2 separate regions of the Homo sapiens genome follow, and region 2 is linked to region 1. A link means that fine-mapping ties the variant in region 1 to the expression of a gene that starts in the linked region. Tissue or cell type: fibroblasts. Region 1 holds a variant in brackets; the other region holds the start of a gene. All regions are shown on one strand. Distances are between the middles of the regions.

Region 1 (2,759 bases):
CCTCTCTGTACCATTCAGTGTTCCCCACACTGTCCTTGCCATTCACACAGGCTTGCAGCTGGAACAAGGAAGAGAGCTCATAGGGATTCTGTTTTGATTTTTCTTCTTACAGTTAATTTGAAGTTTGGATGTGTGGAAGACCTGAGGTTTGTGTAGTTTTATTTGTTCTCTTTGTTGTTCTGTATTGGTTTTTGTAAGAATACAGTAACAGTTTTGGATTTACATGGCCTCATTGCCTAGACTCTCCTCTCTCCTCACTTCTGAGTCCGTATTAGATATGGCCCAGTCTATATAGCTTTGTTTGTATAAAATGTACTTCTAATAGAATAAATTACAACAATGCTTTGAGATGTATTTCATGCCTTAACTTGGTTTTCTTGATTCATTCAATACAAGCGGGCAGACAGCTGGGAAGAATAATCACATGGAGGCTCCCAGCTCTCAAAAGTGTACTTTAACCAGGCTTTTGTTTGTTTTTTAGTATTCCATATAAAATAATAAGTAGTGATTATAAAGTTTTCAGCCTGGGAACTAACGAATGGCAACACAACAGAAAGGAAGAAACTGGAACTGTGGAGCTAGATCACTGGCTGGAGGTTAAGGCTGTGCATGTAGATTTGGACACCATTTACTCACTGATAATTCAGTCCATAAGAATGAATAAGCCAAAGGGAGATAAGTGTAGAGAAAGAACAAAAATTCCCTCCTTCAGGAGGGAGTTCATGTTGGAAAGCAGGAAGGAGCAGCCCACCAGGAACAGGAGGAAACCTTAGAGCATGCAATAGTCACAGAAGCTGTGGGAGGAGGGGCTTTCAACAAGGTGTGAATGGCCAGTAATGTCAGATCCACCAGATAGGTTAAGCAGTATGAAGAGAGAACTTGGAATCTTCTCTTTTTGTCGCTCATGGATTCAAAAAGATATCCACATATAGGATCTAGTTCTTGGAATTCGAACACCTTTCTGGCATTTGAAGCAAGAAGGCATAAACTGAGATGAGACATTAATCTTTTGGTGATCTCATATTTGGTATTCTTAACAGTTTTAATTGGGACATCTTAAATCCATTTCAGTGCTTTGTTTCTGATTAAAGAGAAAAATCTAATGACTACTGAGACTTTCTTCTCAGAATTGTCATTTTGATCTTAATCCTAGTGACTGACCACTCCCTGTTTTATGTATTTAAGTACCCCTAAACACCCTGTGGGAAAATGCCTTGTTCTCAGGAATGTTTGTTAAGACTGGATGTCAACTACATTTCTGAAAATCTTGGGAGTATCAAACCATGCTCAGAATCATCATAGTTTTTGGCTTTCAGTCTTACTTTTCTCTCCACTGTTAAATGCTGAGTCCTGAGCAAGGACAGGGAGCGGGGGATAGATATTTAGTGCCCCTGGGGAGGGAGGTGGCTTAGGTCATGGTCCTGAGACCAGATCAAAGGTGTTGTAGCTATATTTGTAAGCACTTGGAAAAATTGAGATTTATAGTTCAATAATAGGAGATCTTTAACGTAAGTTAAACAGAAAGTTAAGAAGATATTTGAAATCAATGATCGTGTATAACTTAGAGTCCAGGTTTCTTTTATTAATGTGTAATATGGCAACTAGTGATATCTGTGCTCACAAGCTCACAGGGTGATTACAAGAAATATATGAGAAGACGTTCTTGAAAATACTATGATAATTCTTAATTGCTTTTCCCCCTCTTCTTCTT[C/CT]TTTTTTTTTTTTTTTTTTTTTTGAGACAGTCTTGCTCTGTCACCCAGGCTGCAGTGCAGTTGTGTGATCTTGGCTCATTGTAACCTCCACCTCCAGGGTTCAAGCGATTCTCCCACCTTAGCCTCCTGACTATCTGGGACTACAGGCACACATCACCACACCCAGCTAATCTTTGTATGTTTAGTAGAGACAGGGTTTTACCATGTTGGCCAGGCTGGTCTCGAACTCCTGACCTCAAGTGATCTGCCCACCACAGCCTCCCAAAGTGCTGGGATTATAGGCGTGAGCCCCCGCACCTGGCCCTTTGCCTCTCTTCTAAAGCCATCTTTCCAACCCTATTCCCTGCACATTCAGCAAAAGATCTTACCTTTAAAATAATAATAATAATAATAATTGTGGGACTCAAGCACAAATTATCTTAATTTCTAAGCTGGGCCTGCAGATTTTCTCTAAATCTGTACCTCTTCATTCCTCCTGTTATTTAGATCCCTTAGACATGTGTGCTGTTGATCCCTCGTACTTGTTTTCTTCAGGACTTTACGCCGTGAAGTGACCTGTTCTCCCCCTATATCTCTCTATATCTTTAGTCTCCAACTCTTTAGTGACTTTTTCCTCAGCCTGTAACATTTTCCTTCATCCTGCATTTGCCTTTAACTCCTCTCTTACATCTCTCTTTTTTACTTAGCCAAGCTTTTAGTGTCCGCATAAGCTTCCATTCACCAGGGCCATTTTAAGGTCTTCACTGTCCCAGCGTACTCTGTGTTGGAGGTCTTACCCTGGATCACTAGAACCTATAAAATGGATCTACATCACTGATTAAATAGGGTTAATTATTTTGAAAAGATTTGTGGCTTTTGCTTTTGAAGTGATTTGGATTGAGTAAGTCACTTATGATTGATTATGACTTCTTGGCAATCATTATGCTTGCTAAGGAATTCATGTGAAGTAAAAAAGAAACATCCCTAACCTAGAAATTGTTTCCGAGTGGAATGAAATGTTTCTGAGTGCCAGGTTTATCAATTAGTAATGTTAATTTATTAATTTTAA
Region 2 (2,613 bases), 59 kb before region 1:
GATCTCCATCTTCTTGTCTACCTAAAGAAAACCTACTCATCTGTGTGCAATCACCATAAAGACTTATCTCTCTTCTGCAGCCTTTCCTGCAATTTCCATACCTCTGGCACGGACAATCACCTTTTAAAAATACCCCATATAAATTTATCATAGCCTCTACAGTATTTTGATTACACTTAACTAATTACATGACTTCTCTTTTAGTCTTCTTCTCTAATCTCTTGAGGCCATGGACCATATCCCATTATTTTGAATCCCAAATGCCTAGTACTGTTCTTGGTATATGGTTAAGATGATCATACGACTTGGTTTGTGCCTGTTGACCTGGCTTAATAATTACACCCTCTTTACTCTCAAAAGTATCTTGGTTTGGCAGATAAATTATATTTGGTCATTCTCCACATAGTATATGCCTGGCAATAAATGAATGAATGAGCACCAGCATCTGAGCACTTATTACCATACAATATATACATGTATAGTAATACTTTTTAAAAAAGTTGTATATGATGATGTGCTGCTTTTTTGCTTAGCTTCATTAGAACTGGCCAGCTCCTTTTTCTCACTTGCCAAGCATGGGGAGTTGGTTTGGAGTTGGTGTTTCATCTTTTCCAGTTACAGTGTGAAAGTAGCCCACCAGCCCACGCTCTTATTCCTAAAGACCGCAGTGACTCCACGGACTTAAGTTCTCATTGCTTCCAGTTTCCTTGGGCAACGCAGCACGCAATTTTGGACGCGCTGCGTGGTTTCAGAGTCGGCTGTAACTTTTCTCACTTTATAATCATCAGGAAAAGTTCCTGATGCCAGTCTTCCAAACGCTCAATGAAATAAAAACCAGATAGCACCGCAGAGGAGGCTGAGATGCAACGACAAAAGCTGTCGTAATTATTAATAATACCTAACCCTGGATCACTCCCCTGATAGATCTGTATCTTTGCAGCAGGCGCAATTCAGTTTGGATTCACCCAAAACAAAAATGGTCTCCGTCGGAGTCAACGCCCTTTCCTGTGCGGACCAATCAGAATCTCAAACACAGGGCACGGGGCCCACACTTCCGTCCGGTCTGCCTGGTCTCTCTAACCGCGCCAGTGTGCCTCCGACTCGGAACGGCTTCCGCGGCCGGGGCAGCGAGGGCCGGGGGCGGCGGGCGGGATGAGTGCGGTGTGCGGTGGAGCGGCGCGGATGCTGCGGACGCCGGGACGCCACGGCTACGCCGCCGAGTTCTCCCCGTACCTGCCGGGCCGCCTGGCCTGCGCCACCGCGCAGCACTACGGCATCGCGGGTGAGGCGGCGCCGCGCAGCTGGGGCCGGGGGGCGGAGGCGGAGGCGGGGGCCAGCCGGGCTCCAGTTCCTCGCGCTCGAGGGAAAGCCCCTCTGAGCGTAGACGGTTCCGCGGGTCCACGCCAGGGGGCAGAAGAGGCGCTGGTCGGCGCTTCTCCTTTCTTTGCCGAGTGCGAGGAGTTGGTCTGAAGCAGGAGTCGATCTTCCAGTTGTGTGCAAGTGCATATACGTGTAGCCTAGTAGCCCGTGTCCTTGTTCCTTGAGACCGCGCTGCCTCCGCCACGTGTCACACGCCCAGGCACACGTCCCCGTAGGGAGAGCCGGGGGAGCCTGCGCGGTCCCTTGGATCGGTCCGCTCGGCACAGCAGTACGGGGAAGACGGTCTGAGCCAGAACCGACCCAGGGCTCGCGAGTTGGCCCACAATTCCCAGTCTGCATTCGAGCACTGAGCTGCGACCTGCGGGCTGGCCTTCCTAAGGACGATGCTCCTGAATGGACGCCTGGAGTCCCACGGGTGACACCATGAAATATATCAAGTTCAGTTCTTACCTGTAGTTGTCTAACGAGGAATGCACACATTCGCAAGTAGGTGTTACAGACTCCAGTTAATTGTCTCCCGTCGCGCGCATTGGCTCAGCCTGTGGTTAAAGCTGCTCAGGAGGCTGAGGCGGGAGGATCGCTTGAGCCCGGGATGTTGAGGCTACAATGAGCTGAGATCACATCACTCTGCCCCAGCCCAGTGAGCTGAGATCACATCACTCCACTCCAGCCTGGGTGACAGACTGAGACCCCGTCTTAAAAAGAAAAAAGGCCAAGCGCCGTGCGGTGGCTCACGTCTGTAATCCCAGCACTTTGGGAGGCCGAGGTGGGCGGATCACTTGAGTTCGGGAGTTCCAGACCAGCCTGACCAACATGGAGAAACCCCATCTCTACTGAAAATACAAAATTAGCCGGGCGTGGTGGCGCATGCCTGTAATCCCAGCTACTCGGGAGGCTGAGGTAAGAGAATAGTTTGAACCCAGGAGGCAGAGGTTGCGGTGAGCCGAGATCGTGCCATTGCACTCCAGCCTGGGCAAGAAGAGCAAAACTCCGTCTCAAAAAAAAGAGTCCATCTAGTCCGTGGACTAGATGAAAAGGCGTAGGTTCATTCTCGCTTTTGCCTTAATTCATGTCCTAGCTATTATACGCACTGAAGCGAGATGCAAAAACTCATTTCATAATGTCAGTGGTCTATTGTATTTTTTTGTTTTGTCCTACAGCAGAAAAAAATGTTACTTCTAAAACTCAGAGAAATACTTGATTTATTTTCATTATTAGCTCTTAGTGCTTGCA

Which allele goes with the higher level. Alleles are on the strand shown, and positions count from the first base shown. SD is a standard deviation of normalised expression in the study named.
With allele CT in place of C in region 1, the expression in fibroblasts of the gene that starts at base 1,079 in region 2 is lower (moderate effect, 0.57 SD a copy in GENCORD).

Evidence for each region. PIP is the estimated chance that this variant, and not a neighbour inherited with it, causes the effect.
Region 2: PEX7 starts here. The variant in region 1 is fine-mapped to the expression of PEX7 in fibroblasts (GENCORD, PIP 0.95).

Annotation. Positions count from the first base shown.
Region 1 is chr6:136,880,464-136,883,222 of GRCh38, forward strand. The region is part of intron 8 of PEX7 (peroxisomal biogenesis factor 7); the gene reads left to right. Among named protein-coding and RNA genes, the nearest start is that of SLC35D3, 40 kb to the right of the region's middle. The variant C/CT (reference allele first, on the strand shown) is at 1,712.
Region 2 is chr6:136,821,514-136,824,126 of GRCh38, forward strand. It overlaps PEX7 (peroxisomal biogenesis factor 7), which reads left to right and starts at 1,079. Exons shown (of 10, transcript NM_000288.4): 1 at 1,079-1,282. The coding sequence starts at 1,153. RefSeq lists enhancers at 650-799, 683-1,415, 1,416-2,148, 1,530-1,689 and a silencer at 980-1,359.